Homo sapiens: one gene and its partner. The protein of the gene in region 1 purifies or fractionates together with the protein of each later gene. This does not show direct contact. Each region holds a gene or a part of one and is shown in the gene's direction. Other genes may lie near its edges.

Evidence for each region. Proteins that work in one complex are often made in the same cells at the same time.
Region 2: the proteins of PLCB2 (region 1) and WDR36 purify together in Homo sapiens (affinity purification with western blotting, with the first as the bait; one study listed by BioGRID). This does not show direct contact.

The regions. Positions count from the first base shown.
Region 1 is NC_000015.10:40,290,820-40,294,473, reverse strand, and holds part of PLCB2 (1-phosphatidylinositol 4,5-bisphosphate phosphodiesterase beta-2), read left to right. Parts: intron 1-53; coding exon 54-208; intron 209-749; coding exon 750-914; intron 915-1,448; coding exon 1,449-1,548; intron 1,549-2,030; coding exon 2,031-2,135; intron 2,136-2,315; coding exon 2,316-2,410; intron 2,411-2,549; coding exon 2,550-2,625; intron 2,626-2,708; coding exon of another isoform or gene 2,709-2,823; coding exon 2,824-2,868; intron 2,869-2,986; coding exon 2,987-3,209; intron 3,210-3,290; coding exon 3,291-3,456; intron 3,457-3,636; coding exon 3,637-3,654. UniProt on the Homo sapiens protein: The production of the second messenger molecules diacylglycerol (DAG) and inositol 1,4,5-trisphosphate (IP3) is mediated by activated phosphatidylinositol-specific phospholipase C enzymes.
Region 2 is NC_000005.10:111,109,199-111,112,852, forward strand, and holds part of WDR36 (WD repeat-containing protein 36), read left to right. Parts: intron 1-990; coding exon 991-1,105; intron 1,106-1,589; coding exon 1,590-1,755; intron 1,756-1,971; coding exon 1,972-2,080; intron 2,081-3,654. UniProt on the Homo sapiens protein: Part of the small subunit (SSU) processome, first precursor of the small eukaryotic ribosomal subunit.

The DNA.
Region 1 (3,654 bases):
TGGGCACAGCCCCAGGGCTGGGCCTTCCTCACTGAGTGTCCTTGTCCCTCCAGACTTGCCCATGCAGCAGAACATGGCAGTATTTGAGTTCAACGGGCAGAGCGGCTACCTCCTCAAGCATGAGTTCATGCGCCGGCCGGACAAGCAGTTCAACCCCTTCTCAGTGGACCGCATCGACGTGGTGGTGGCCACCACCCTTTCCATTACGGCAAGGCCCTGGGGCACACAAGTGGCCGGGAGGCTGAGGTCTTGAGTAGAAGGGCACAGGAGCCCACCCCTCACTCAACTCGCAACCCCCTCCCCTGATATCCTGGAAACTTCAGCCCCAGCCAGTTCCTGCAGTAGCAAGTTGCCTTGGAAACTGCCTCCTCCTCAGCACTGGAGGCTGCCACTTGGTCCCCATGGAAACCAACGGGAAGGGCTGAGGCTGGGGTGGGGGAGGGGAGGAAGAGTGGGCAGAGTGGGGCAGCCGGAGCCCCAGGTCCTGGGGGAAGGCATTGTTCCCTCTTTGGCTAGGGAGGGAGGTGGGAGGCCCACCTCTTCCCTTCATGCTAGAAGCACCCTGGTCCTCAGAGCTTAGCTGTAACCCGTGGGCTACACAGCCTCTCTACTCATGGCCAGAGCTGAGTGAGGTTCTTCATAACACCCAAGAACGAATGCTTCAGCTCTAGGCAGCCAGGGGCCCCAGATGCTTGGGGAAGAGCCTGGGTGGGGATTTGATGCTGGTTTTCCTGGGCCCCTACCCCCAGGTGATCTCTGGGCAGTTCCTGTCAGAACGCAGCGTGCGCACCTATGTAGAAGTGGAGCTGTTTGGCCTTCCTGGGGACCCCAAGAGGCGCTATCGAACTAAGCTGTCACCCAGTACTAACTCCATCAATCCTGTCTGGAAGGAGGAGCCCTTTGTCTTTGAGAAGGTGGGGGCCAGGGCATGGCAGGGCAGAGTCTGTCTAGTTCTTGGCCTCTACTTACAGACAAGAGGAAGTAAACAAGGCAGCTCCTTGACCTTCCTCCTCCTCCTCTTCCCATCCCTCACCCTGGGCCCTCCTGTTTCAAGAGTGCAAAACCCAAGTTTACAGAAGTTTACTTGGTAGGCAGAGTGTGTGTGTGTGAAGATTAGAGGCAGAAATGTGCACTCAGGGTTGAGGTTCCCATGGGAGTCTTTTGCCCCACTGGATACCCACTGGCAAAGCTGTCAAGGGCTATCTGTGCCAGGCCCCCTCAGCCTTGGGCTGCAAATCCAGCCCTCCTCCCCTGTGTGGAACCAGCCATGGCATGTGCTGTGGGGATGTCTTTGTATATGGCCTAGAGTGTGCCCTCTGTCTGTCCTCACCAAATCTGGTGACACTCACCATGTTCTCACACTGATGCTGAGACTTCTGGAGCCAGGGAGGGGGTCAGCTTGGCTCCTCTCTCCCCTCCCAGCCTGTCATGTCCCCAACTCTCCCCAGATCTTGATGCCTGAGCTGGCCTCCCTCAGAGTGGCTGTGATGGAGGAAGGCAACAAGTTTCTTGGACACCGCATCATCCCCATCAATGCCCTAAATTCTGGTAAGGAGTGGGGTCCTTCACTGTTCCAAGATCAGCAGCAGGAGCCTGTGCACAGGGTGGGGCAGCTTCTGGGAGGGGGCCTGGAGTGAGGCCTTACCTAAGCCCTCACATTGTAAGGAGTAGGGCAGAACAGTACCTCTCCAGGAACCTAAGAGAGGCGGGAACTCTGCCCACCTAACAGAATTGCTGTAATTTTCTGAAACGGCTGGGGCAGTTTCTCAAGTAGCTGACACTTATGGGCATTTAAAATTTGCTAAGGGCTTATAATACATTCTCACTTCATCCTCACAATAACCACATGAGTAGACACTCATCCCCTCTTCATAGATGAGTAAAGTCTCAGAGAGTTAAAGTAACCTGGCTGAAGTCACACAGCCAGGATGGTGCAGTGCCAGACTCAGACCCTTGGGTCCTAGGCTGTGTGTGCACAGTGCTGGCAGGAACGGGCTCTGGCTCACTGCCTACCCTGTCCTGTCTCACAGGGTACCACCACCTGTGCCTGCACAGTGAGAGCAACATGCCCCTCACCATGCCTGCGCTCTTCATCTTCCTGGAGATGAAGGACTACATACCTGGTGCTTGGGCAGGTAGGAGCCCATGGCATGCCAGGAGCCTCGGGGTGTCTGTTCCCCCTTCCTTCCCATCAAGCCAGCTTCCAGAGTTGGGGTGGGATCCAGATGGGGCATCCTGGAGTGGGTGAGGACAGGGGAGACTTCCAGCCACATCTCCATATACACTATGTTGTAATGTCCTGTGCACCCACCCAGATCTCACTGTGGCCCTCGCCAACCCCATTAAGTTCTTCAGTGCCCATGACACGAAGTCTGTGAAGCTCAAGGAGGCCATGGGAGGTCTGCCTGAGGTCTGTGTTGCCTGCACTGCTGCCAGGGGCTCACCAGAGATTAGCCCTATTTATGGGAGAGGCTGGGGAGAGGGCCGAGTCCCAGGCTCGGGGAGAGAGGGCTGTCAAGCCACCTTCCTGACCTGCTCTCCCTACACAGAAGCCCTTCCCACTGGCGAGTCCAGTTGCCAGCCAGGTCAATGGGGCGTTGGCCCCAACGAGCAATGGGTCACCAGGTATGAGCTTCGGTCCGCACACCTACTGGGGGCACCTCCACCTCTGCACCCACAGGCACTTCCCTTTAAAAAATTTCACCTAGGGAAAGTGCGGGGCAGGGGGCACATACTGCGACTCCCAGGGGGCGGTGTGGAGGAGGCGAACGGAGCCAAGGGGCCCCCCAGAGCACCTGACAGCCCAGCCCGTGGCTCTTGCAGCAGCCAGGGCCGGGGCCAGGGAAGAGGCTATGAAAGAAGCTGCGGGTAAGGCCTGCTGAGCCCGGTGATCTCGGGGATGAGCCTGGGGCGGGTCCGGGGCTCCTTGGGGGTTGGACGGGCAGGACGGCCTGGCCGGTGTTGCGCCTCACCCGGGCCTCCGCAGAGCCGCGGACCGCCAGCCTGGAGGAGCTCCGGGAGCTAAAGGGCGTGGTGAAGCTGCAGCGGCGGCACGAGAAGGAGCTGCGAGAGTTGGAGCGGCGCGGAGCGCGGCGCTGGGAGGAGCTGCTGCAGCGGGGCGCGGCGCAGCTGGCGGAGCTCGGGCCACCGGGCGTGGGGGGCGTCGGGGCCTGCAAGCTCGGTCCCGGCAAGGGCTCTCGCAAGAAGAGGTAAGGCTCGTGGCGGTGCCCTGCCCTCTGCAGCGCGGGTGGCGCAGGATCTCAGGGCCTGTCCCCACGTGGCCTCCCCAGGAGCCTGCCCCGCGAGGAGAGCGCCGGAGCCGCGCCGGGCGAGGGCCCTGAGGGCGTGGACGGGCGCGTGCGGGAGCTGAAAGACAGGCTGGAGCTGGAGCTGCTGCGGCAGGGCGAGGAGCAGTACGAGTGCGTTCTGAAGCGCAAGGAGCAGCACGTGGCCGAGGTGGCCGGGAGGGGCAGGGCGACAACCCCACCAGCCCCACCGACCCCACCCCCCATGGACCCCATTCGCCCCTCTCACCGACCCAACCCCCTCACCGACTCCCCTCCACCGACCCCCGCCCCCCGTACTCCCTCTGAACAACAAAGGGCTTCTCGCCAAGCTTACTTCCTCTCCCTGCAGCAAATCTCCAAAATGATG
Region 2 (3,654 bases), on another chromosome or scaffold:
TTCTTGATTGTATAACTATACAACATAGCATAAACATTTATGAATTTTTCAAAATAGGTCAGCTTAATGTTTGTGTTTCATTTAGGAAGATAAAATGCTTTTTAACCATAGTAATTTCCCATCTAAAATACTTTTTTTAAAAGAAATCTTTATCTAGAAAAATGTATGTATGTAAAACATATTTATGTGATGCAATGTAAATATGTCGTGACAAAGTGGTATGTCAAACTTTATGTTGCTTTGCTTAGTTAAATAAACCTTCATTAAATACTTTCTACTTAGTTTGTATAAGTCATCTGTTTAGATGTAAATTGAATTATCTCTTGGTGGATGACATCTGACTGACACACATTGGCAATCAGTTATTTCTCCAGCAGTGACCAAATATGTAGCCAGTCTCATGTTTTCAGTATAGAAAAAATATATTGACATAATATTGATATTTTAAGTATTAAAATGAGATTATATTATAGAACCTGCTTATAAACCAAATGTTTTCTCTGTAGTGTCTTATATATTTCCTTCCTAATATGTCATAATTAAAATATTTTGGGCTTTTGCTTGGCCATTCTAACTAATGGTATGTTTTTGGTTTTATGTCAGCTGTGGAAGCAGTTACAAAAGGCAAGACAAAAAGAAATTAGGCGATGGAATGTTTTAACTTTGGCTTTGTTAATAAATTAAAAATTGAAGGCTAGTCCCATATATAGTTCTCTTGACTTTGTACATTTAAATTGAGTTAACCTTAGTTATGTTTTGTTTTCTTAGATAGTAATTCTTCATACTTTTTAAAGAATGGAGATAGAATCTAGCATATATTCTTATACACCCAAATATAATTACTTTATGTTAAAAAAACTAATGAAGCAATTCATTTATTGTTCTTTTGTTAAATAAAAAGGAACAAGTAGATAAAAAAATGCTTTGGAAAGCATAAAGTGCAATAAAAATGTTAGTTATTTTGTCATTTGTGGGTTTTTTTTCTTAAAGGCAGTGGATATAACTTCTTGTGGAAACTTTGCTGTAATTGGCCTCTCATCAGGAACTGTAGATGTATATAACATGCAGTCTGGCATACATCGAGGAAGTTTTGGCAAGGATCAAGGTAGAGAATTTTTTTCCTTGTTTTTTATTAATGTAGATAGATACAAAACTAGTAGTGAAAGCTGGTATGTATAATCTTTAAGTGCTGGGCATTTTGCTAAAGTTGAAGATGGGTTATAATCAACCCTATATGGCAGATACTGCAATTGTATCATAAGGACCATGTTGAAAGAGAAAAGTCATGGGTACTTAAAGAGTTACGTGGATATTATACAGATTAATTTTTTTTCTTCTCTCCTTTAAGCAGAAAATCTTAACAAACTTTTCAAACCTATGTTGTATCGATCTGATTTCTGTTTTTTTACTCGAACAGTATTAATAATTAAGAATCTTCTTACACCCCTAAAATCCAGATTAATTTCAAGATTTTAAAGGATATTTAAGTGGCACCTTACATATTTGAATGAAGGAATCACTGTGTGTATTGTTCAGAGAGAAACACTGCCAATTCTGATTTTTTTTTTCTTTTGACATCTACCTTACAGCTCACAAGGGATCTGTTAGAGGTGTCGCAGTGGATGGATTAAACCAGTTGACAGTTACAACTGGTAGTGAAGGATTACTCAAATTCTGGAACTTTAAAAACAAAATTTTAATCCATTCTGTGAGCCTCAGTTCATCTCCAAATATCATGTTGCTACATAGGGACAGGTAAACTTTTAATGATAATGGATTTTCTCTTTGATTCTTTTGGTAAAAGTCATAAAGTCACAATTTACCAAGTGGGAAAAATCAGACTCTTTAATAAAGAACAACATTTGGCTTAATTTCCCCCAAAGTGTACTTGATTTAACAAAATTCAAGTGGAGGTGAGATTTTAGTTCAAGGGTTTTTTGTTTATTAAAACTGGTGCATTTATCTTGCTAGTGGCATTCTGGGACTCGCCTTGGATGACTTCTCCATTAGTGTTCTGGACATAGAAACTAGGAAGATTGTCAGAGAGTTTTCTGGACACCAAGGCCAAATAAATGACATGGTAAAACAAACTCTAACTAATAAAACTTGACTCATTTCTACTTTTGTTTGGGTGTGTTATCCTTTAATAGCCTTAAAATCATTATATGAGGTGGTTATCAATTTTAATTTGCAGGCTATTTTTCAAAGATTTTAAAGGAAAATTTTGAATTAAAAGTTTAATATTTTTCAGGGAGTTGATGCGATCAAATTAAAGTATAAGTTTTAGAACTCATCTTTTTTTTCATTAACTCTAAACAAGGCCAAAGTATACTTTAGAGAATGAATGATCCATTGGTATATATGTCATTCTTAACTTAATATTAAAATAGGCTGGGAGAACTCATTTCTGATTTACTATGTATGGAATGAATTAATAGTAGAAGACCATTTCCCTGGAATATCTGGTATCTGGTTTATTTTAGTTTAGTGCTATTTCTAGAGTTTACATATCTTAACTCTGAAAGGGTTTAATTAATAAAAATGTGCTTAAGTTTACTATTATGTTCTTATAATGGGATATATGATATGGAAAGAAGTAAACTAGTTTAAATAGCATATTTCATTAAAAAGAACTTTTAAAATAAATTTGTCACTTGAGGACCATATTAAGTGTATATTATCATCTTTCATCAATTGCAGATACCTTGATTTGCTTGAAAATAGAAAAAGTAAAATAAAAATAAAATCTTAATACTTAGTGACGAACCCAACAGCTGCATTTACTAGTTCTCACACCAAAAATCAGAATTTACTCCTTTCCTTCAAAATTGAAGAAAAAAAACATGGTCAGGACATTGTGTTCTGCAGATAGGAGGCTGGCAAAATTATACATCAGCAGAATTTGTTTTGACAGCATCTGTAGAAATGAGGGTGGGATTGGGTTAATTGTGCTGAAATGGCACTTTTGAAAACATCTGTCAGTGTCAAGTTGCTCTTCCTATTTCTTTTTCAAACCTTACTTTCAACTTGTATATCTCGAGTTTCCCTGCTCAGTAATAAGTTATTCCGGTTAGTCAAATCTGTGAGCATTTATAACATGACTTTACCTCTCAGAATCATTCTTTCCCATCCTTTACTATCTGTACCACCCTTCTGTAAATTGATCTATCTATAACTTGAGATTTGAGTTCCCATTGTATTACTGCAGCCTGAGGAACAAATCAACATTTACGTATCCCAGTATCATCTACTAATTTAAACTGATGGATGAACAGTCTACTACAACTGTAAACTTTAAAGTTTTTCCTTTTGGGTCATCTTTCACCTGTGATCTGGTTTGTGCCTCACAACCCTTAGGTACTACAGGCAGAGAGATCTATTATTTATCCATTTTCATAGCTAGAAAAAATAATGGGTGGCATAAGTAGTTTATTTAAATTTATTTTGAAAATCTGATTATTATAGTTTGTTTAGAAATAAAGCATTATTAAAAGAGAAAAGATTTTTAACTTAAGCTTCAAGAAAAGTAAGCCCTTATCACACACATAAACATTGTCTATAAATAAATAGAAGATTGTGATTTGAAAATTAATGCAGTACACTTTTTTAACTTTTAATAATTCATTTAAAAGTCTAATCTTTATCCAGATTCCA